Homo sapiens: one gene and its partners. The protein of the gene in region 7 interacts with the protein of the main gene of each other region in a pairwise test. Each region holds a gene or a part of one and is shown on either strand. Other genes may lie near its edges.

Evidence for each region.
Region 1: the proteins of ZNF488 (region 7) and RBPMS interact in binary tests that used the Homo sapiens proteins (3 or more experiments, as listed by UniProt).
Region 2: the proteins of ZNF488 (region 7) and APBB2 interact in binary tests that used the Homo sapiens proteins (3 or more experiments, as listed by UniProt).
Region 3: the proteins of ZNF488 (region 7) and DR1 interact in binary tests that used the Homo sapiens proteins (3 or more experiments, as listed by UniProt).
Region 4: the proteins of ZNF488 (region 7) and KIF1B interact in binary tests that used the Homo sapiens proteins (3 or more experiments, as listed by UniProt).
Region 5: the proteins of ZNF488 (region 7) and LMNA interact in binary tests that used the Homo sapiens proteins (3 or more experiments, as listed by UniProt).
Region 6: the proteins of ZNF488 (region 7) and GTF2B interact in binary tests that used the Homo sapiens proteins (3 or more experiments, as listed by UniProt).

The regions. Positions count from the first base shown.
Region 1 is NC_000008.11:30,503,041-30,506,540, forward strand, and holds part of RBPMS (RNA-binding protein with multiple splicing), read left to right. Parts: intron 1-1,139; exon of another isoform or gene 1,140-1,245; coding exon 1,246-1,396; intron 1,397-3,500.
Region 2 is NC_000004.12:40,823,043-40,826,542, reverse strand, and holds part of APBB2 (amyloid beta precursor protein binding family B member 2), read left to right. Parts: intron 1-572; coding exon 573-656; intron 657-2,783; coding exon 2,784-2,899; intron 2,900-3,500. UniProt on the Homo sapiens protein: Plays a role in the maintenance of lens transparency, and may also play a role in muscle cell strength. Involved in hippocampal neurite branching and neuromuscular junction formation, as a result plays a role in spatial memory functioning.
Region 3 is NC_000001.11:93,352,407-93,355,906, reverse strand, and holds part of DR1 (protein Dr1), read right to left. Parts: intron 2,000-3,500; coding exon 1,836-1,999; intron 1-1,835. UniProt on the Homo sapiens protein: The association of the DR1/DRAP1 heterodimer with TBP results in a functional repression of both activated and basal transcription of class II genes.
Region 4 is NC_000001.11:10,217,070-10,220,569, forward strand, and holds part of KIF1B (kinesin-like protein KIF1B), read left to right. Parts: intron 1-3,500. UniProt on the Homo sapiens protein: Has a plus-end-directed microtubule motor activity and functions as a motor for transport of vesicles and organelles along microtubules.
Region 5 is NC_000001.11:156,121,211-156,124,710, forward strand, and holds part of LMNA (lamin), read left to right. Parts: intron 1-3,500.
Region 6 is NC_000001.11:88,864,068-88,867,567, forward strand, and holds part of GTF2B (transcription initiation factor IIB), read right to left. Parts: intron 48-3,500; coding exon 1-47. UniProt on the Homo sapiens protein: General transcription factor that plays a role in transcription initiation by RNA polymerase II (Pol II). Involved in the pre-initiation complex (PIC) formation and Pol II recruitment at promoter DNA.
Region 7 is NC_000010.11:47,370,794-47,374,293, reverse strand, and holds part of ZNF488 (zinc finger protein 488), read left to right. Parts: intron 1-3,500. UniProt on the Homo sapiens protein: Transcriptional repressor. Plays a role in oligodendrocyte differentiation, together with OLIG2. Mediates Notch signaling-activated formation of oligodendrocyte precursors.

The DNA of each region.
Region 1 (3,500 bases), on a different chromosome or scaffold from region 7:
GAAGTTCCACCCACTCCAAGACTTCTGGGTCAGGGCTCTGTGGCTTTTGTTAGGCCTCCCTAAGGACCTCTCTTTCCTTCCCCTTCCCCCCTTGTTTCCTGTTAATGCCATTACCATCCAGCCACAGGCTCTTCCTTGTATACTTGAAGCTGAGCCTGTGAAGTTCAGAGTTGTTCATCCTGGTCTCTAGAGTAAGAGAGTCTTGTTTTTGTGGATATTTCTTTTTTTGAGACAGAGTCTAGCTCTGTCACCCAGGCTGGAGTGCAATGGCGCGATCTTGGCTCACTGTACCCTCTGCCTCATGGGCTCAAGCAATTCTGTCTCAGCATTCCAAGTAACTAACTGGGATTACAGGTGCATGCCGCCACGCCCAGCTAATTTTTTTTTTTTTGTATTTTAGTAGAGATGGGGTTTCACCATGTTGCCCAGGCTGGTGTTGAACTCCCGAGCTCAGGCAATCCACTCGCCTCGGCCTCCCAAAGTGCTAGGATGACAGGCATGAGCCACAACGCCCTGCCTGCTCTTATTTTTTTTCAAGCTCATTAGGAAGAATGGTGGCGAGGGGGCGGGGGATGCTTTGGAGCCCTCAGGCCCATGTGTGTACATTCAGAACACTAAATGGCAACTGTGTTCTTAGGAGACTCGTTTTCAGGACTCCAGTCCCTTTCCAGACCACACCATGAAAACATGGGAACTGAGTGGGTCCCATGGGTGCACATTTAAAATACACTCTCTTGGGATATCTTTTTGACACGTAGGGTCCAGAATTCATGGTATTGGATGCTTAATAATGAAGACATTCTTGAATGGTGGAAAGGTTCCAAATAGACTTGTCTTGCGCTAGTGTCTTTCATAGTGTCTGTGATTTGTTTTACTGAATATAATCTATTTTAGGTAAACTGCAGGAATAGGGTCAGAGGTAACTGAAATTACTATATATTAAAGTGTGTAACTGTGCTAGGAATTTGCTGGTTCAAATTTTAAACTGAAAAGTTTTTGTCTAAAAAGAAAAGGAATAGTTGAAAATCTGTGTAACTACATTTTTTAACTAAACTAAATCCCACTGACTTTCGGGACACTTTGTGTTGTCATTTTTCATGTAACCTGTGTAAGTAGTAAGAATGAGAGTGGTTGCTGACCTTTTTTCCTGATAGACCAGGGTTTACTGGTGTGTTTATTTTGTCACCATTCCGGTTTGACTCAAAGGAAATGAAAACATCTTCCATTTGTTCTCTGTTTCCAAAGGGCATCCGCTTCGATCCTGAAATTCCGCAAACACTACGACTAGAGTTTGCTAAGGCAAACACGAAGATGGCCAAGAACAAACTCGTAGGGACTCCAAACCCCAGTACTCCTCTGCCCAACACTGTACCTCAGTTCATTGCCAGAGAGCCATGTAAGTCGATCTACTTTTCATTCAAAAGTAATAATAACTAAGAACTGTTCATGTGCTGCATGTGAGGTTACACCATGGGACATGGAGCTGGCTGAGTCTTATTTTCCATTTCTGTGAAGAGGTTGCCTAGGCGTTCTTGGTGTCAGAATTCCAAATACAGCAATCTTGTTTGTGATTGGCTTCCCAAAAGATGGTTCAGCTTGAATAGAACCATAACTTCAGAATATCATTTGATGTACTACAGATTTCCTTAATGTTATATTGACCATCATGAGTATGCCCCTAGTTGCCTTGGGTATAAACCCTTCATTCCCCCCTGCTCGGACACGAGAGCTGGTTCTCAGCATTTACTTTAATCCATTTGTTGAAGGACATCAGCTCGGTGGCTTTGGAAAAATAGGATATTAAAAGAGAAAGAAGCAGATCTTGGGAATTTGGTTCTATTCAGTTTAGCCATAACTCTAGGGGGAAAAGTAAACACATACAAAGAATGTATATATTGGAACTGTCAGTCTAGCAAACTAATACCAGTAAAACTTTAAGGAAATTTGGGGCTTTCTTTTCCAACTTAATTGGATAAGGACACTGGCTAATTGCTCAAGACGTCTTCTACCCCACATTAATAAGCTTATTTCATTATATGTCCAGACTACCATTTCTGCCTTTCCCTGAATAACTTTAAAAGATTGAATTTGCTTTCTCAAGCTCAGTCAGTGGCAGAAGTGGGGCATGAGACAGGCCTTAACTTCTCCTTTCATTGCAGAGCCATATGTGATTTAATATGGCAGGGCATTCAAGGAAACCCAAGTGACTTGGATTCCAAGTTATTTGGAATATTTCTGTCCTGTTGTTTTTGGTCTGCTTTCTAAACCACACGGTTGTGATCTTCTTCCTTCGATAGTACATTTTAACTCTTCTTATTGAAATTGAAGGACACATGGATTCCTTGCTCCCCCCATGTCATGTGCATGTCAGATTTAATCAGGTTATCTTTGGAAGTCACAGCCATTCTGTAGTTCAGTCACTCTTGGTACTCATCAGTAGAAACTAACAGATAAGTCTCCCTGAATGTTCTAAAATAAATGTTTCTATGAATCCAGAAAGTCATAATAGATTAAAAAAAATTATTTTGTTCTTTCACCTTCTTTGTCCCAGGGAAACTAGAAACCTTTGCTTATTTGGGAAGGAAATCTAAACAAAAGTTACATCTTACAGTGTACTTGTAGTACAGGAGGATATAGGAACATCTTTTACATAATTCTTCATCCTTATAGTATCTAGCTTAATACTTTGTATATTGTATATATTTAATATTTATTATAGTGAGTGGATAAATTGATACTGAAATTGGGCTACTTGTAGAACTGTAGATGCATTTGTATGCCTCTTCTCTCTGAAATTTCTTCTCTCTTGATCAAGGCATCAAAAAAGAGTATTTTTAGGATGCCTGATTTAGTAAAAATAACCTAAAGTAATTCTTTGCCTTTTTAGTGAATTTGCCAGCCTCAGATCTCAGAGTTCTTTGAAAAGATTAATTCAGGCAGGAAATGTAATGCTGGTGATACTTAACTTTACCTTTTCAATTCTTTGCTGAATGCTCTTTTTAACAGGACCACGAAACTTTTTCTGAATTTCCTACAACAGCCCTGTGAAATAGGTAGCCAGGAAGGTTGTAGCCAGATTACGACATGCTATACAAAAGCAACAAATAGGAACAAACTGGACATTCACAAGTCCCTGAAGTTACAGGAGAGCATAGAAACTGAGCTTAGAACTCTTTTCTGGCAAGCTCTGCTCACCTCCCTTCCCAGCATACAGAACAGTGCAAAAATGGCCAGATAGTTTCCATGACAGGGTAAAAACTTGCCCAGCTGTTCACAGCAACACAAATTTGAAGTTTAAAAAAAAAAAAAAAAAAAAAATCCAAGCAGCCAGCAGTGTATTCTTGAGGAAAATAAAAGTCAGCATGATTTATCTTAATATAGCTCATTTTTACGACACAGCATCTTGAGGAGAGCAAGTCCACTATGGCTCAGGTCAACCTTATTATCCATTGCCATTCCCTCTGGGAACTGGGAACTTGACCGTCACATACAACTTGCTT
Region 2 (3,500 bases), on a different chromosome or scaffold from region 7:
ATGGTGAAACCCTGTCTCTACTAAAATACAAAAAATTAGCCAGGTATGGCAGCATGCACCTGTAGAATTGCTAGAACCCAGGAGATGGAGGTTGCAGCGAGCCAAGATCGCACCACTGCACTCCAGCCTGGGCAACAGAGCGAGACTCTTGTCTCTAAAAAAAAAAAAACGTGGGTTGATTACTGGGGGAACTCAGTTATCTTCCTATGTCTCTGATTGTGCCCTTTGAGGTTACATTTTCTCTGGGCATCAACCACACCTAATTAAATAGGACACCAAAAGCTGCTACTTTACTTAATATACATCAAAGAGACAGTAGCAGCTTTAACACATAGATGCCACTTCCTGCTTTCACATGCATTCCTATCTTGAAAGTTGAACAGGATTTTAACAGAGCCCCAATATCTGGAGTAATGCTGCTCTTGTAGAATAGTTGTTACATTTACATCCAGAAACATAGGGCGTTATGGCACAGGGCGTGTCCTGAGCATTCAGATGATGCAGAGCCACGGCTGTTGTGTACATGTGTGTTGGAACCACTGAGAAAGATGTGTTGCTTTTGTTCCCTGTAGTAGATTTTCCAACACCAAAGACTGAGCTGGTCCAGAAGTTCCACGTGCAGTACTTGGGCATGTTACCTGTAGACAAACCAGTCGGTATGTGAAATGTTTATTGTCTTTCCACTTTGCAAGTGTGCGGGAGCTCACAGGAGGCGTTCGCCCTCCGAGGAGGGTGAGGTCTGCTGTTTACTCTCACGCCTTGTCTTGAATCAAACTGTCACACTGTCACCTGCCAGAGAACATAAACGGTCCTGATCAAAAGATGAGTAGAGGGACAGGCCCCGCTGCTTTGACCTGTCATCCCCAGCATGCAGGACTTTAGCAATACAGACGTGGATTTCTTGTTTACCCAGTAGTCCAGAGCTGTGTGACTCAGGGCCGTGGAAGAGCTCCGCTGCTCTGAAACGAGGCCTCCATCTCTGAGGCCAGGGCACCTGCTTCGTGTCTTGTCAGCTGGCGGGCCAGGAGAAAGGACTGTGGAGGCTTCATGCTGTCAAGGAGTGACACAGTAGTGGCACACACAGCATTCAGCTCACATGCCAGGGGCAGAGTGTAGTTGCTGGGCTATACCAAGCCAAAAAGAGACTGGGAGATGAAGCCTTCACCAGGGCTAAAAAAGGCTGTGGAGAAATCGCAAGCTACATATACTGCCAAGGGGGCTGTAAGATGGTGCAGCTGCTTTGGAAAACAGTCTGGCATTCTTCAGAAGGTGAAACATAGTTACTTTAGACCCAGCAACTCAGTTCCTAGGCGTAGACCCAAGAGAAGTGAAAACGTTTGTGCATGCAAAAACGTGTATGCAAATGTTCACAGCAGAATTATTGATGAGAGTCAAAAAGCGAAACAACCTGAATGTCCTGACAAATCAACTGACAATTAGATAAATAAGATGTGATACTTCCATACAGTGGAATTTTATTTGGCAATAAAAAGGAATGAAGGACTGAAGTGCGCTGTAGCGTGGATGAAGCCTGAAAACATGCTATGAGGGAAGTCAGTCCCAAAAGACTGCATACTGTGTGATTACGTTCATATGAAACGCCCAAAATAGGCAGAGCTCTAGCGTCAGAAAGTAGGTAAGGGTTGCCTTGGTCTAGGGGTCTGGGGAGTGGGGGAAAAATGCAGAATGACCCCTACCAGGCACGGGGTTTCTCTTTGGGGTGATGAAACTGTTCTAAAATTGATTATGGTAGGTCTAGCATGGTGGCTCACACCTGTAATCTCAGCACTTTGGGAAGCCAAGGCAGGTGGATTGCTTGAGCCCAGAAGTTCAAGACCAGCCCAGGCAACATGGCAAAACCTCATCTCTACAAAAAAAATTCAAAAAATTAGCTGGGCATGGTGGCATGTACCTGTAGTCCCAGCTACTCCAGAGGCCGAGGTGGGAGGATCATCTGAGCCTGGGAGGCTGAGGCTACAGTGAGCCGTGATTGTACCACTGCACTCCAGCCTGGGTGACAGAGCAACACCCTGTCTCAAAAAAAAATTGATGATGGTGATGGGTGCGCTCTGTGAATGTACTAAAATCCACTGGATTGCACACTTTACGTGAGTGAATTGCATGTGAATGATACCTCAATAAAGCTGTCACTCCCACCCCTATCCCCCAGAAAAACTGTGGAAACAGCTGGCAAAAGGGCCCTACTCAATGGGGGGATCCACTGTAAAGGTGCCATCAAGAGACAGTGAGGGTGGAGAGAGGCTGAAGGGCCATGGTCTGCATAGGTAGACAGCGTCTAAGGCACCAGGTCCCCGGAGCTTCTCCTGACTCTCCTCTCCTACTGAAAAGGCTGTTATTTCTTTTTTTTCTTTTTCTTTTTTTGTTTTTTGAGACAGAGTCTCACTGATACTTGCCCAGGCTGGAGTGCAGTGGTGCGATCTCAGCTCACTGCAGCCTCCGCCTCCTGGGTTCAAGCAAGCATGTCCAGCTAATTTTTGTATTTTTAGTAGAGACAGGGTTTCACCGTGTTGGCCAGGCTGGTCTCGAACTCCTGACCTCAAATGATCCTGGCTCAGCCTCCCAAAGTGCTGAGATTACAGGCGTGAGCCACTACGCCCGGCCAGAAGCTGGTATTTCATTCCTGTTGAGCAAACATGAGAATGAAGTGTCCTGTCTATTAAAAAAAGATCAGTCTGGGCGTAGCTGTTATTGGTGATTTGGGCCCACATTTGAGTGTGGTAAGTGGCTTTAGGACACTTTAAATTATCCTTTTCTGTCCCCAGGAATGGATATTTTGAACAGTGCCATAGAAAATCTTATGACCTCATCCAACAAGGAGGACTGGCTGTCAGTGAACATGAACGTGGCTGATGCCACTGTGACTGTCATCAGTGAAAAGGTGAGAAGGAATCTTCGATGACATTGGTGTGTCTTATACAGTGAGTATAAGATACAGTGGTTTTCTGTGGAACTTAGGAACATAGTCAAGGCCGGAGTTGTGCATCCTTGTGATTAAGATGGCCTACATTTGAAAGATTTGGCCCTTTGTCTGGGTCTAAATCTGTGCATACCTCTGTTTTCCTGTGGCCTGAGAAACTTCTCTTCTGGTGCTTCTGATTCTGTCTTCCTCATGTGCCCCAGAGAGAAATTGTTTGCTAGAGGTGAGTGTGTGACGCTAGTAGTCGCTCACTCTCAGGGCGCCAGTATTGCCTGGGCTGTGTGATCTGGGGATGAAAAGCAGAAGATGCTTCCATTTGGGAGAGTCCTGTGACTATCAGTAGCAGAAGGAGCTATTGGTTGTCTTGAGAAGAGGCCACATTAGCCTCAGCCCAAATTATCTCAGTTTCGTGGTTGAAGAAATTGAAGCACAGAGAGGCTAAGTCATTTGCCCAGCATCACACAGTTGGAAGCAATGGAATCAGGACTTAAATCCAGGCAACCTGGCCCAGACTTGTGCCCACTTTTCTATTCTGCCTCTGTGAAGCACCTGCCAGGGAAAG
Region 3 (3,500 bases), on a different chromosome or scaffold from region 7:
GTTAATATTTAAAGTCTAAAAAATGAAACAAAATGAAAGTGATAAAAAAGATATATTTACTTATCCACTCTTTCATATTTAGAACTTCAGTGCTCTAGGGAAGAAGTACTAGGCAACTGCTATAATATTACCTCTCCGCTGGTCATCCTCACAATAGTAAAGAAATACTAGAGATCTTCATACATAAGTCAGGGTAAGAAACAAGGGAGACAAAAAAGAGGAATAAAAAAACAGATAATAGGGATAGAAAGGTGAAGACAGATATAGCAGGCAGTCAATTATTTCTTTATATTTTGCCCTGGCAAGGATAATACATATTCTATTTAAAAGCCCCATAATAAGTTTAAGCATATAAAATGGAGGCTAGAGCATCAGCATGGTATGTTAGAAACAGTACAGGCTTTTGGGTCAAAATACCTAAGTTTAAATATAGACTCCAACACTTCCTAACTTTCTGAACTTACTGTTTTATTTAAGTCAATCTTTCCCACTCAATCTTCCCCAGTAGATTAAGCTCTATAATGACAGGAACCCTGTCTCCTTGTTCACTCTTGTAAGCCTAGCACCTAGCATGATGCTTGGTAAATAGTAATGACTTCAGTAAGTAACTGTAGAACAAATGACAAACAATTTCAAGGAAGTTTTTCCGCCTCTGAGTCTATTTTTTAATATGTAAATGAATACAATAAAATTTATATTTCATAAAAACTCTGCCAAGTTTTTATGTATTTAAAGTATCCAGGAGAAAATCTTCTGTCACTAAATGTTCAATTTAGCATTCTCTAGGTGGTCTGCAATATCAATAAATAGCCATTAATGTTTTTAAAACATCAACACCTCTTCTTTTGTACCTCATATTCATATGAATTATAACATTGCATGTACTAACGCCTGCTTCAAAGGCTTTTCCTCTTTAGTGCCTATGATAGGTTGTTGGGAGGATTAAATGAGATAATGCAGGAAAATTACTTGGCAATGTGATTAACACGTGGTTAGAACTCAATAAATGTAAGTTTTTCTTTTTATCTTGTTTAAATGGTACTTGGTGTCTAGTGACCAACAATACTTAAGACTAAAATGCAGTTTGATGTAAACCAAACTGATTGTTATGGCTGCAGAGAGATCAGCTACAGGACTAACCTGGAAGAGTTTACCTAAAATGATACTTCCCAGTTCTAATGGTTACTACGGCTTCTCTTCTATTCAATCCAAAGCTGCCTTATAATTTCAAATGAGAGGCCAGAACTTAGAAGGGAAAACACAGCATTGCCACCAATTCCCCTCCCTTCTCTTTTTGAAACAGAGAACATTAGTATTTGGTTCTAATCCTTCAGAGTCTAGATATTAGAATTATTACAAGCAAGGAAGAAGACATTTTCTCCCTTTGCTCTACTAGCTTTAAAATATTTTTTAAGATTAAAATGCTTCAAAGGTGTATATTAAAGACCTAATTTAACTACACAGTTGATATTAATCAGATTTTGCTGGTATGTCATGCATCATAAAATTTGATATAGTATTTTCTCATCAGCTCATCATTTTAAATCTTAAGAATATTTAGGTATACTTTTCATGCCTTAAAATGGTCATTCTGTCTGAAAAAATATCAAGTGAAATTTCAATAGGTATTTGGAGTTGTTCTCTTTAGAACAGATTGCTGCAAATATTTACTTTCACATAAACCAGAGTCAAATTGGTCAGCTCTGAACACCAGAATCTATAATCAACTACCTAGAAAAAGGGAATCCTCTGGGTATGTCTGTTAATTTAGGAAGCAATTTCAGTTAGCAAACAGGGTAGGATTCAGAGGAAAATAATTTAAATAAATTACTTACTTTTGCAAATAATTCTTGTTGCTGTCTCAATAACTCTTCTTCAGGAATGCCAAGGTTTTCCAAACGAGAACTGGCCTTTCTTCTTTTTAATGCTACTGTTTTACACTCTTGCAAGACTTCTTTTACTTCACTGATGTAAGAGCCAAATCCCAAACTTTCTAGTGCTAGAGAAATGAAAATATTAAAATATGAAAGGGTGATAAAACACAGCTTTCCCCCAACCCGTAGACCTAAAGTTTTTGTGGGCTTTTCTTTGGGGGAGGGGAATGTTTTGCTGTTTTCTAATAATTTTACCTATTTTATAGTTGTACAACAACTGTCTGGGCAGCCAAGACAAATATTTTATCAATCTGCTAAATATTAGGTGGCAAATCAGTTAAAACTTGAAGAACCAAGGCACATGCCTTCACTTTTCATTCTGACTAATTTTTAAAAGACCAAAGCATTTCCTGTAAGCAGGGAAGAAAAAAAAGCCCATTATAAGAACATATGGTTTTAGTAAGAAAAAACATTTTGTGTCATTTGACTTAGAAAAAGTAGGCTGGTAACACATTCTCTACTAAGTTCTGGTAGGACAGAATAAAAGAACAGAAGTTTTTCTTTTGTCCAATATACCAACAGGAAGCTATTTTTAGCAGATACTCAAACTGCCAAGTTTAAAAAATACTGGTGGAAATAAAAGTCATGAAATTCAGCACTTATAGTCAGCCAACAGGTTTCTCTTGAAAATAAAACTTAACAGGAAAAATAAAAACATATTTAAATGATGTGGCAAAAAAAACGTAGCTGAAAGACTATAAAGATACAAGAAGCACTAATAAAAATGTTTCTCCCCTTTTCGTATTTAGAAAGGAAATTTTATAAGGAAAAAAAAATGGGCTAGGCATGGTAGTTCATGCCTGTAATTCCAGTACTTTGGGAGGCCAAGGTGGGAGGATCCCTTTAGTCCAGGAGTTCAAGACCACCGCGGGCAACATGGCAAGACCTCGTCTCTACAAAAAGTAAAAAAATTAGTCGAGTGTGATGGGTCGTGCCTATGGTTCTAGCTACTCAGGAGGCTGAGGTGAGAGGATTGCTTAAGTCCAGGAGATTGAGGATGTCACGAGCCATGACTGCGTTACTGTACTCCAGCCTGGATGACAGAGCAAGACCCTGTTTCAAAAAAAAAAAAAAAAAAAAATTCACACACCCTAAATACCTTCTGTAATCCAGAAAAGACAAGGCATAAAATTTCCTTTTGGGTCATAGTATTTAAAATTATATTTTATAGTTTTGGTATATTGACTAATGCCCCAAAGGCATATTTTGTATTGTGAACCAATGATGAAACATAGGTGGCAAAAAACAGTAAATCAATTTAAGTCATCAGTTCTTGAAGTCTTTCAATCATTATGTTGAACCAGACTCCTTTTAGTATACATGCTCTCACTTCTAACTTCAGGGATTTGCTCTTCTGGGAGAATGCCAAAAACACCTTTACAAATCTACATGCCCATGCAAACTGTGGTTTTTAGACATTTTGAATGATTTACAACTTTAAGTATTTCAAATGTTAAGCTGTTTTCATCAACCTTCTTTAGAAATAATCTGATGCCAAAAAGCATAGTACTGTCCTATTATTAAGTTAACTCACTTCCCCTGACCTCCCTAAAAACTTCAGAAAGG
Region 4 (3,500 bases), on a different chromosome or scaffold from region 7:
TTCAAGTGATTCTCCTGCCTCAGCCTCCCAAGTAGCTGGGATTACAAACGTGTGCCACCACGCCCAGCTAATTTTTGTATTTTTAGTAGAGATGGGGTTTCACCGTGTTGGCCAGGCTGGTCTCAAACTCCTGACCTCAGGTGATCCGCCCGCCTCTGCCTTCCAAAATGTTGGGATTACGGGCGTGACCCATTGTGCCCAGCCTTTTCTACTGTTCTTGAACACACCAGGCATAGTCCTACCATAGGGCACTTGCTCTTACTCTTTCTTTTTCTTTTTTTTTTTTTTTTGAGACAGCCTTGCTGTGTCTCCCAGGCTGGGGTGCAGAGGCACAATCTCCTGGGTTCAAGCAATTCTCCTGCCTCGGCCACCTGAGCAGCTGGGATTATAGGCACCCACCACCAAGCCCAGCTAATTTTGTATTTTTAGTAGAGACGGTGTTTCACCATGTTGGCCAGGCTGGTCTTGAACTTCTGGCCTCAGGTGATCCACCTGCCTCAGCCTCCCAGAGTGCTGAGGTTACAGGCGTGAGCCACCGCACCCAGCTGCTCTTACTCTTTCTTCTGCCTGGAATACTTTTCCCCTGAAATCTGCTTGGCTAACTCCTTTACCTCTTTCAAGTCTTTGCTTAAATCTCAGCACATCAGCAGGCCCACCCTGACCTCATTTATGCACCTGCACAGCAATCCTTCCCACCACCACAATCTTGAACCCCCTGACTTTGCTGTACTCCCCCGTGATGCTGATTACATTCTCGATTCTCTATACCTGATTTATTAATTTTAATGTCCTCCCTCTCCCTACTAGAATGTAAATTCCTCCATGACAAGGAGGTTTGTTTATCTTTTTTGTTCACGGATTATTTTTCCCAGGAACTGCCTGTTGCATTGTAGGCACCCAGTAAATAGCTATTGAATAAAGTATAGAAATGTGCAAGTCTTTCCTATTACAAATAAAGGGCTGGGGGGAGGAAAATCCCTCCTTCGTTTCTGTTCCTTCCAATAAAATCCTTCATTCCTATTTGCTCTCTCCTGCTCATCATAGCCAGGCTCTGACAGTGTCATGGATACTGGCATTTCCCACTTCCGTGCCAACCCACTACAGGCTGGCTTCAGTGTCCCCTCCTGCCCCCCACTTCATGGATACTGCCCTTGCTGTGGTTTCCAGCCTTTATTGCTGAAACCAGGAGGCACACTTCACACTTTTGCAGTACTAAGTATGTTACTCATTTTGTTTTTTTCTTCCTTGAACTTTTGGCTACTTCTGTTTGTGGGCTGGTTTCAGTCTTCTGAAACTGCTGTTTTTCTGGCTACTCACATGGCTATTAAATTCATTCAACATAAATCTTTGTGCAACTTTTTTTTTTTTTGAGACAGAGTCTCGCTCTGTCATCCAGGCTAGAGTGCAGTGGTGTGACCTTGGCTCACTGCAACCTTCATCTCCCGGGTTCAAGTGATTCTCCTGCCTCAGCCTCCCGAGTAGCTGGGATTACAGTCATGTGCCATCACACCCAGCTAATTTTTGTATTTTTAGTAGAGACAGCGTTTCATCATGTTGGCCAGGCTGGTCTTGAACTCCTGACCTCAAGTGATCCACCCGCCTTGGCCTCCCAAAGTGTTGGGATTATACGCGTGAGCCACGATGCCCAGCCGATCTTTATGTAACTTTTAAAAGCTTGCTGTGTCGTTTGGTTTTATTTGTTTTTAGGAACTAGAACTTTGACTACACAACATATTTACAGTGTTAAATAGCAGAATAGGCTATTACAGGAAGTTTTTATTTATTTATAATTTATACCAGTTACTACTTCTAGAAAGGATTTGAGCAGCTTACCACAAATATATACAGTGAAGCTATTAAAATATAAATAAGTAAAAATTTATGTAACAAGAAAAACTAAATGTATAGGTTGCCTCGGCTAATGTGGTTATTGTAATTTAATTTGGAAACATGGAATTTAATGCAAAAAGGGAAAGATAAATTGTACAATTTTCACTCTGGTAAAAGAAAGCCTAATAGTTTGTCGAGAGAAACCTTTTTTCCTAGTATTAAATTCTAAAGATGTTCTAAGAGAAAATTGTTATAAACATCCTGATATAAAGATACGTACGGCCGGGCGCGGTGGCTCATGCCTGTAATCCCAGCACTTTGGGAGGCCGAGGCTGGTGCATCACTGAGGTTGGGAGTTTGAGACCAGCCTAACCAACATGGAGAAACCCCATCTCTACTAAAAATACAAATTTAGCCGGGCATGGTGGTGCATGCCTGTAATCCCAGCTACTTGGGAGACTGAGGCAAGAGAATCACTTGAACCTGGGAGGCGGAGGTTGCAGTGAGCCGAGATCATGCCATTGCACTCCAGCTTGGGCAACAAGAGCAAAACTCCATCTTAAAAGTAAAAAATAGGCCAGGCCTTATGGCTCACGCCTGTAATCCCAGCACTTCGGGAGGCCGAGGCAGGCGGATCACCTGAGGTCGGGAGTTTGAGACTAGCCTGACCAACATGGAGAACCCCATCTCTACTAAAAATACAAAAAAATCAGCTGAGTGTGGTGGTGCATGCCTGTAATCCCAGCTACTCGGGAGGCTGAGGCAGGAGAATCACTTGAACTCAGGAGGCAGAGGTTGTTGTAAGCTGAGATCGTGCCATTGCACTCCAGCCTGGGCAACAAGAGTGAAACTCACCTCAAAAAAATAAAAAATAAAGACTTACTAGGGCTGGGGACAGTGGCTCACACCTGTAATCCCAGCACTTTGGGAGGCCTAGGTGAGAGGATTGCTTGCGCCCAATAGTTCGGTATCAGCCTGGGCAGTGAAGCAGGATCTCATCTCTATTAAAGATAAATTTAGTGGATGGGCGCGGTGGTTCATGCTTGTAATCCCAGCACTTTGGGAGGCTGAGGCAGGCGGATCACCTGAGGTCAAGAGTTCGAGACCAGCCTGACCAACATGGAGAAACTCCGTCTCTACTAAAAATACAAAATTAGTTGGGTGTGGTGGCACATGCCTGTAATCCCAGCTACTCGGGAGGCTGAAGTAGGAGAATCACTTGAACCCGGGAGGTGGAGGTTACGGTGAGCCGAGATCGCGAGCCATTGCACTCCAGCCTGGGCAACAAAAGCGAAACTCCGTCTCAAAAAAAAAAAAAAAAATTAGGTAGGTGTGGTGGCATGTGCCTGTAGTCCCAATAACTCCAGAGGCTGAGGGAGGAGGATTGCTTGAGCCTGGGAGATTGAGGCTGCAGTGAACTGTGATTGTTCCACTGTACTCCAGCCTGGGCAACAGAGTGAGACCCTGTTTCAATAGATAGATAGATAGATAGATAGATGATAGATAGATAGATAGATAGATAGATAGATAGATAGATAGATATGTACTAAATGTTTTCAACAGCTTCTTTAAGTAAAAGGAAGAAATGTTCTTCAAATACCTTTACAAAATAAAATAAAAAATAAACAGGGCAGTGATGCATGCCTATAGTACCCAGCTACTCCTGAGGC
Region 5 (3,500 bases), on a different chromosome or scaffold from region 7:
GCTAATTTTTCTATTTTTAGTAGAGACCAGGTTTCACCATGTTACTCAGGCTGGTCTTGAACTCTGGGGCTTAAGCAGTCCACCCACCTTGACCTCCCAAAGTGCTGAGAGCCACTGAGCCTAGCCCAAATCCACGTTCTGATTCAAAGGGAAAGAAGAAGGGTGCAGCTAAACCTGGGGGGTGAGAAGTACTTAAAAAGCCCAAGAGAAACAAAAGAGAGAATAATTCCTCACTAGGACCCCCTATTGCCTTCCCACTATTGGTGCCCTTGCTTGGCACTTCCCCTGGCCTCCAGGAGTCTGAGACTTACTCTTCCATGGATGTGCCCATTGCCCCCACTTCCAGGTCCACCCCCCAGTGATTCGGTAGCTTAGTGTCTGCGCTGAAGCCCAGGACAGCTGGATGGACAACTGGTAGATCCCTTCACCTACCAACTGTGCTTTCTGCTCCCCTCCCCCTTGCTTCCCTCCTCCCCAGCCCCTCGCCACCCCTAGCAGCTGCAGCAGCCAAGACCAAGTCTTCAGAGACCCAGACACAAGGGCAGGGTTCATTCCATTCTCACCTCCTTGGGGTCCCAGTGTACTGATAGGCCGAACTCTAATATTATAGGAGATCTCTGGAAGATTGCAGGGTCTCTTATCCCTCAATAAGGGGCAAGGCAAGCCGGGCGCAGTGGCTCACGCCTGTAATCCCAGCACTTTGAGAAGCCGAGGGGAACAGATCACTTCAGGTCAGGAGTTAAGAGACCAGCCTGGCCAACATGGTGAAACCCTGTCTCTACTAAAAATACAAAAATTAACCAGAAATCGCTTGAACCCAGGAGGCAGATGTTGCAGTGAGCCGAGATCACGCCACTGCACTCCAGCCAGGGCGACAGAGCAAGATTCCGTCTCAAAAAAATAATACTAATAATAAATAAATAAATAAGGGGCAAGGTAGTCCACCAACAAAATGACAGGCAGTGTGATATAGTGGACACCCTAGCCCTCGGTGCCCTTAGTTCTGTGTGTGGCCCTTTCACTAAATTGCTGTGTGACCTTGAGCAAATCGCCTCCCCTTTCTGGCTTTCCTTAGCTGTAAAAGAAAGGGATTGGAGCGGAAAGTCTCCAGAGACCTTTTAGGTTCCAAAGTAGTACAGTGACCCACAAAGTGAGAAAACAGTCTTCTAAAATACCAAGTTATTAATAGTAAAATCAAATATAAATAATGTGAATATAGTTAATAGCTAATGTTGTTCTCAATAGAAATGTTTCCCACAAGCTGTGGAATTAAACATACTACCACATTTCTCTATTTCCCCGTGAAAGTTTGTTAGAAATGGTTAAATTGTGACATTACCCTCTTGGCAAATGTTTTGTTTTCATTGCTACTAGGAAAGGGCAACTCGTTTTCGATGCCTCTCCCTTCTGGACGGTGGAAAGGGCTGTGTCATAGAGTAGGAACGGGAGATGCGGCACAGGAATGGCTCCCATTGACCCGGGTTGGGGGCTAGGGCGAAGGCCTAGGAGAGGCAGAACTGTTACCTTAGAGCTGGCCAGGATTAGAGAACAGTGCCTGGAACCGGGGGGAGGGGCACGGTGACCTTGGGCTGCCCACCTTCTACCCTTCCAGCACCCATACTGGCTCCCCCAACCTGCGGCTGGGCTGGGAGGAGGTCTTGGCCCCTACCAATCCCTTAAGGAAGGGGAAAGAGTTTGGGAAGGGGAGTCCTCCCTTCACCCCTGCCTCCCCCAAGTTGTGAGAGAGGAAGCCGGAATCCTGCCTGCTGAAGCCAGGAATAATTCTGGCTGAGATCCCAGGCCCGGCAGGGGCGCTGAGTCATGGTAGAGGGCAGAGTGGAGAGTGGACAGGAGACCCTAAGCTTGTCCAGTCAGAAAAGCAGAGGCTGAGGGGTGGCCTTTTCTTGAGAACTACATTCAAGTTGCAGCAAGAAGGACAGTGGTCTGAATTTGACGGGGACAAATGGAAGGGAGATAGGACACATGAGTTCCTTTAGGTCTGGCTCAGGGGAGCTAGACTTCATTTCAAGGGGTCTAGGTTCTGGGCAGTTGAGAAGGAGGCTATTTGGGGTCACCAAGGCTCCCCTTTCTTCCCAAAGCTCTAACACTGCCACCTTCTGCTGGCTAGGAGAGAGCTGTGTCTTCTGAGGCTAGAGCTGGAATGCAGTGAGACCAGACTGCCTAGGTCCTCCCTCACTTCTTCTCCTGACCTTGGGGTGTGGCTCCCACTCTCTCCCAGTGTCCTCAGGGTTAATAACTATGTGCCACCAGATAGAGAGTTAAGGGGCTGCTGAATTGGCTTCTTGTGAAGGGAATCCCCTAAATGTCCCTCGTTTTGGTCACTGGCCTCCCTCCCGCCCCCTTCAGGACATTCTACTATCTTCTTAGGCCATCCCTCCCTCCTCCAGGCACTACTTCTTTTGCTCTATCCCCAAGCCCCACCCCTGCATTTTTGTGACAACACCGGAATGATTTCTAGAGAGAGAGGCCAGGAAGAAGGAAAGTGGCACTTGGCAGGAGACCTTGCAGGGGGCGGCTGGTGAGGAAGCCAGCCGCCCATTGTCCAGGACCCCAGTGCCCTGGCCTCCGGCCTCAGGCTTCTCCTGCCTCTGTACAATGCCACGTTGATACGCCCAGCAGCTGTGACTCAGGCCTGGCCCCCTGCCAGGCCCAGCACTTCTACTGGAGTTGCGTCTGAACATGTCAACAGGCTTCCTATCCCTCTCTCAGCACCAGTTCTCCCCACTTCAGCCCCTCCCTCTGCCTGGAATTAAAACCTGGCTTTGTCTTAGGGAAGGACAGCTGGGAGCCTAGTGGCTCTGGTAGGGGATCTGAGAGGCCTCAGACCCTAGGCATATTTGGCTGTTTGGCAGGTGTCACGCCCAAGGGAAGCGTGTGGAAGCAGAGCCATGCCTGCTGTGGGTGCACATGCCCGCGTGAGGGAGTCGGGGTGTTTCATCCTGGGGCACCTGTGGGCTTTTGAGGTGTATGATATTCAGAACTTCACAGGTTGGGGTTTGGGGAAGGCTCAAGGGGCTTCTAAGTCCCTGGAACAGCTGCCCCCCTCAGTTCCTCTCTCTCTCTCTCTTTTTTTTTGAGATGGAGTCTCGCTCTGTTGCCCAGGCTAGAATGCAGTGGCGCGATCTTGGCTCACTGCAAACTCCGCCTCCTGGGTTCAAGTGATTCTCCTGCCTCAGCCTCCCAAGTAGCTGGGACTATAGGTGCCCGCCACCATGCCTGGCTAATTTTTGTATTTTTAGTAGAAATGGGGTTTCACCATGCTGGCCAGGATGGTCTCAAACTCCTGACCTCGTGATCCACCCACCTTGGCCTCCCAAAGTGCTGGGATTACAGGCGTGAGCCACTGCGCCCAGCCTCAGTTCCTCTCTTTAAGGTCTCCTTTCCAGAGAGGGATAGCACCTCAAATGCCAGGGAGGGGAATTCTCCACATCCTGCCCTTACCCGAGTTGTGGCAGACCCACAGACTAGCCAAGAAACCA
Region 6 (3,500 bases), on a different chromosome or scaffold from region 7:
ATTGCTGAAAGTTCGCCATTCAGATCCCACATCAATAACCCGGTCACCTAAGAATATAAGCACATATCTGAATCATTTTGTCAAGATAGGGTTTACTTAACTACACTGTCCAATGCCCAACTAAGCCATTTTATTCCCAGGAAATCTCAACATGGACATCTAGGACCAAGCTTAAATATCACATTTCAGACATTTGTCCTAAAGCATTCCTTTAACTATTGTGCCAATCTAACAATAATCCTCTTGAAACATTATGCTATGATATTCTAACTCTTGGAAGAAAAAGTATTAGTCAAAAGTAGCAAAGTACAGCTATTCATATGTGATGCAAAGGTAAACCAATGTAATAATGATTAAGAACCAGATTTTGCACAAAATTTGCAATAGGCATGGGAAAAAAAGAGAAAACATTTTTTAGAATGGTATTAATGCAAATAATTTCATATTAAAATGTCACTAAGTTTGCGTGGGAAATGCTTCGCAGAAAATAAGCCTAAGCTTCTGTTTCAAAGTAACAATCTGATGAAAAACATACCTGGCCAAATAATTTATACAGAATAAACCTCAAGCCTAGAATCCGTGAGAAGAAAGCCTGGTAGGCAAACTTTTCTCTTTAAGCAAAGAGGCAGCATCTAAATATATCATGTCCAATAAAAGCAGACACAAGTAAACCTTATTATTACTGTTTTGGTGAGAAAGCTCAATGTCTGGCAATACCTTCAGAGTAGACAAAAGTTAACACTGAATACTTAACACATACTACTCACTGTGCCCTTTTGTAAATGTTCTCACTTAATCTTCACAGCCTTATAAAGGTAGGTACCAATTTTATTGCCACTTTACAAATAAGATTAACTAGCCTAAGATCACATAGCTAGAACTGAAACGCACATCAGAGTTTGTTCTACACTCCAATTGTAAAACATGACCTTTTTCAGTGAAGTGTGATGAAGCTGAAAGTAGGAAGGAACCAGACCATTTCATCTTTGTGTATACACAGCAAACAGAAAGAAACAAACGGCAGAAACCAGTTACTGTAGCAATTAGAAGTTACGGTACTAGCAGTCAATTAATATAATAGTCAGGGGTGTGAACTCTGCCCTTTGCTGCTTAGCCTTGGAATATTACTTCATTTCTATGTCTTTATTACCTCAGCTCTAAAATTCTCTTTAACCTCATATTTTAAAGATTATAAAGACTAAGCTATTATAATACCCATGTACAGTGCATGTAAAGTGCTTAAAAAGTAGTACTAAGTGCTCAATATTCACTATTTACTGCTATGAAAATTAGAAAGATAGCAAATATTCTGAGTTTCTCCTTTTTTGTGGGGATGATAAGGGAGACGCATCAGTTTAAAACATTAATCTCCAGCCGGGTGTGGTGGCTCAGGCCTGTAATCCCAGCACTTTGGGAGGCCGAGGCAGGCGGATCACCTGAGGTCAGGAGTTTGAGACCAGCCTGACCAAGATGGAGAAACCCCGTCTCTACTAAAAATACAAAATTAGTTGGTCATGGTGGCACATGCCTGTAATCCCAGCACTTTGCGAGGTCCAGGCGGGCTGTCACCTGGTTGGGAATTTGAGATCAGCCTGACCAACATGGAGAAACCCTGTCTCTACTAAAAATACAAAATAGCTGGGCGTGGTGGCACATGCCTGTAATCCCAGCTACTCAGGAGGCTAAGGCAGGAGAACTGCTTGAACCTGGGAGGTGGAGGCTGTGGTGAACTGAGATCGCAACAAGAGGGTAACAAGAGTGAAACTCCATCTCAAAAAAAAAACAAAACAAAACAAACAAACAAACAAAAATTAATCTCCATAGAAGACTTTAAAAGCTTCCAAGTGCTCCGCTAAGTATTTGATCAGGAGGACAGCAAAGAACAGAGAAAACGGAAGGAATTCCACCTAGACTATGCTAACTTTTTAATTTTTTATATAAAAATTAATTTAAATGCTCATAAACAACCAGAGTATAGTGATCATATAATCTTAGTGATAGATTTAAAAAAAGGCTGGGCATGGTGGTTCACACCTGTAATCTTAGCACTTTGGGAGGCTTAAGCAGGAAAATCACATGAGCCCAGGAGTTCAAGACCAGCCTGGGCAACATGGTGAAACCCTGTCTCTACAAAAAAATACAAAAACAAATTAGCTGGGCGTGGTGGCATGTGCCTGTAGGGAGGCTGAGGTGGGAGGATCACCTGAGCCCAGGAGGTTGAGGCTGCAGGGAGCCATGATTACACCACTGCACTCCAGCCTAGGTGAGGGAGACCCTGTCTAAAGTAAGCAAATGCTCAAGAGAATGATTCATTTCTGAAGCCTCTGACAAAATTTTTCTTTTTTCTTTTCCTTTTTTTCAGACAGGGTCTCACTCTGTTGCCCAGGTTTGAGTACAGTGGTGCAATTTTGGCTCACTGCAGCTTTTGCCTCTGGGGCTCAAGCAATACTTCCACCTTAGCCTCCTGAGCAGCTACAGATATGCACCACCACTGCCTGCCTGGCTAATTTTTGTATTTCTTGTAGAGATGGGGTTTTGCCATGTTGCCCAGGCTAGTCGTGAACCCCTAGGCTCAAGTGATCCACTCACCTCGGCCTCCCCAAGTGCTGGGATTACAGGGGTGGGCCACCATGCACAACAGAAAAACTTTTCTTTAAACAACTGAATCACCAAGGTAAAAGCGGATTATCAGTTGGACTACCATGTGTCCACATTACAAAGGGATTGAGATTAGAGGCAGAGTTCCCATGTGCCATCCCTGTATGCAAGGAGAACACGCAAGGAAGGCAGAAGCAGGACAGTAAGTTAGAAGGCAATTTTAATACATCACACATTGAGCAGGTGGCCCGAAACAAGGAGAAAAGCGTTAGATGGATGGCATTACAAGGATTTATCTGTTTCCTCTTCCTCATAATAAACATCACTAAACTTAGGAAGCAGTTTGAATTATGCAGATTTTAAAAAGATACTTAAAAGTATCATAAATTGTCATTGTGCACTGAAACCTTACCAAACCACTGTGCAGTGAGTACTATTCACCAACAAGCCCATGTCTCAAAGAGATCACACTAAAGAGATCAATTTTTCTTCCTTTTTACAAAATATTTGCTCACTAAAAGATACGTTAGAAAAAAATTACCTGCATTCCCAATACCCAATGACCACTATATTTTCATATATGCTCTGTGTTTTTCGTTCATATGTATGCACCTACGTTTTCCTAAAATTTAGATACTGTGCCTGTTTCATGACAAGCTCTTTTCATTAAATTTATCATAAACACCAGCATGGTATTTTTAGACAGAATTTAGTCCCTTTAATAGCATCCACCAATTAAAGTGATACCATGGTGTTCCCATGCACTTATGTCCAAAGACAGAAAAGACAATCTAACTTTCCTATTTGGCAAAATAAAAACACAAACATGCATAGAACAAAAATAACCGTGGCCTTCAAACCCAGAGTTACTAAATTTTAAGCTAAAAAAAATCAACAAATGT
Region 7 (3,500 bases):
ATTTTTTGCCCTTTAGCTTGTCAAAATAATGTCTAAAAAACCAGATTGATCACAAAAGATGCATCATAATGCCACATAAAGATGTCACTCGGCGCCTTATAGTATTTAGGACCATAGAGGACACCTGGTGCAGCCTCCTCATTTTGCAGCTGAGCAAGATCTTTGAAGGACAAGGACCTGCCCAAGGCCATCTAGAAACACTGAAGTTGAGACTCATACCCGAGCATCTTAGCTTTTGCCCACCCCACGCTGTTTCTCAGTCTTAACCAGCAAGCTTTCCTTGTTATTTTGGTTTGTCTTACGTCTAGGTTTGATTTGGCAGCACATTTCAACATCTGGTGAAGGCATGGGAATAAAACAGTGTAGGTGGATGGAGCACCTAAGAGCAGAATGTTTGGTGTTCTCTCAGGGTACACTGGGCAAGGCCTGCTGGGCCGTCCTTCCTCGCCATGCTGCCTGCGTTTATTCAGTTAAGAAAGTGGCACATTTTGTATCTTTGAGAATGCAACTATTTTAGTTAGGAGAGTGATGTTCCGTCTATGGAAGACTTTGCCTCTCTCCATCTTGGGCTTGGAGAAGGTGTCCCATGTCCCAGCAGCATGGCTGTGTACAGTCATTGATTCTTTTGTTTACTTCTCCATGCCGTACATTTTGTTCCTGTCCCTTGATCACAAAGAAATAAATGAACGTTCCTGAGGCACTGACATGGGCCGGGTGAGGTGGGAGCCTCCTTCTAGATATTATTATCCTATTTAAATGCATTATGTTCCCACTCATTTCACGATTGCCCAGTATTCAGAGAAGTTGCATTACACAACTGAAGCTCCATAATAAATGCGTGGAGGTGAGATTCAAACCCACGTCTTTCCCATTCTACTTTTTGTGCCTTTCTGTTTTAATTTGCTTCTTGGTATTCCTGTGTATTATTAATAGTCTGAAGCTTGGAAATAGATGCAATAGTCATTAGAGTGAAGAAAATACAGTGCCGTGCTCTCTGAAGGATAACAAGGACATTTTTGTTGTAATTACTATTTTGATTTTTCTTTTAAGAATGTTGCCGAGGAAGGAAAACAGAGGGAAAAACCAGCAAAGCTCACTGTGTCTAACTTTTGCCACATGCATGGACCTAATTTCTTACTTGCCAAGCACTAGAGCCTTTATTTTTGAGACTCTGTGAGGGTGGCTGAGTTCTGTGTGTTTGCTGGGGTTGGAAAAATCTAGTGTGATGGGGGTCAGTGGCCCCATGACACGCCAAGGCAGAGTAAGCCACAGAGCTCAGTCTGCCATAGGTGTGGCTTCCTTCCTTCCTCACATCTGTGTCAACACCCGGCAGGAGGTGCCTGATTCCAGTGGGGATGAAGCAGCCTCTGCCCATCCCTCCATCACCCATCAAGAGCTCTGGACACACATGAGGTTGAACCCCCAGATGGTGGCTGCCAGGGGAGTGTGTCCACCTCTCACTTAGGCCAGGTGCGTGGCATCTCACTGCGGCAGGCATCCCATGGGCGAGGTCGGTGCTCTCCTGATGTCTTTGATATTTTTCTTTATCTGGCCTAGTCTGAGACCAGTACTTTCCCCTGCCTGTGACCCCTGACTTCATTTGCAAAGTTTTCTCATGCACTTTCTGAAATTTTCATGACAGAGAGCCCTGGAGGAATTTGGGGCAACGATGGAGGTGGAAGAAGGTTTAAAGCTGGGAATCTTTATGCATTTTCTCTGTTTTCTCCTTCTCTTTATTTTTTTTCTTGACCTATACTTCACACTGGTCTCTGTCTTCTCCATGCTTAGAAAGCAGAGGAGGCTTGAGCTTCCAGCAAAGACCTTGCGACATGTTACTGGATACAGGCTGGTGCATAGAAGGGGTGGGTGGGGAGGGCTGACAGGAGGGTGTCCCTCCCCTGAGCATCACCGGCTCTGTTCTTGGCCAGTTGCTCTTTGTCCCCACATTTCAGGTTCTCTTCCTGCATTCAAGCATGGGCAGGGCCAGGGCTGCTGTTTCAGGACTGCATCTAGCCCTGAAGTTTTCTCTGGGCCTCCACAGGGGACCTTCCTACTCTGAACTCCACATGCATTCTCCAGGCCACACTGCACACTCACCCTACTCTCCAGTCATTTCCAACTACTTAGAATTCAGTCAGTGTTGAGAGTCACCAGTCTTATGTAGACTGGAGCCTGGCACATAGTAGGTGCTTTTTGCATGTTTACTGAGTGAATGAATGAACAGAAAATGAAATGCACTTTGCCTAAAAGCTGATCTGATCTGATCTGAGTGCCCAGGCATTTCACCCTTCTTCCAAAGCTCTCCTTTTGTTCCTGTGGCCCAGGGAATGCTCAGTTCCAGGCTTGGCAGAGGAGGGGTCTCTCTAGGCAGTGTGAAACAGACTGTGAAGCCCCCATGAGAAATAGTCCACCCACTGGGAAGGCCCCTCCGCTCCCAGGAAACTCCAGCCAGAGCACTCCAGCGTGGGGGCTAGGACTCCTCTTTTCCAAAGGAGAGTAGACAGTGGGAGGAATTCACCTCAGAATGATTTCCTGGAGCAGTTAGGAAAGTAGCATCTCTGAAGTCACAGAGGCTTCAGCTCCACTGGGCCGTGAGAATCCCTTACAGAATTCTGACCCCGACCAAGCAGAAAAGGGCACTGCCGCCTTTAAAACAGTTGACTGCAGAACAAAACAAAATGCTAAAATAAGACTAGAGTAGTTTGAAAATATTGGAAAGTTGAGAAAAAACTCCCCCAAATTCCATGATACTAGCATCATCATAGTATATAGCACATTACATATATAGTGTATTATATGGTATATTATGTATACATACTATGTATACTATATGTTATATGGTGTATGTACATAGTAAAAATTATTTTTCACATATCTATTGCTTTGGTATGTTTTCTTTCATGTTTTTGTTTATTTGGTAGATAGGCTTTTTTCCTGTTTTGTTTTACAACATGTTTATATCTGACACTAACATTGTATTATAAGCTTTTTTTTCCCATACTATTGCGTAGTCTTTATAGCCACACTTAAAAAATGAATCATTTATTTCTAAAAACAGTCAGGTCCATTTTATTTTGGCTTCTGGATCCTGCCCCTCCCCGGGCACTCTCCCACTGCAGAACTATGTTAGGCTCAGTTCCCCAGAGAGCCCTCAGGTTTTCCACACCACAGGCCCCATGCAAGCTTCTTGTGAACCCTGGGCAGTCCCTTCTGGGTCCTCAGAGCTCAGTTTAGATGCCACCATTGCCTGTTTGCAACACTGGCACATGTGCAGGTCCCTGTGTTCTGTACAGCTGAACTCAGGACTGCCTCATCACCACTGTCACTACCGCGCCTCGCACAGGGCCCGCATGCTGCATGCTCTCAGTGAATGCTTGCGGAATGAACGGAAGAGGGAATCAATGAACAAATGACCTGGTGGTCATTTTCTGTGTTTCCTCCTGGGGTTTTTCCTTTGGTGTATGCATTTTGTGTGTGTGTGTGCATAGAATAGGTTACAC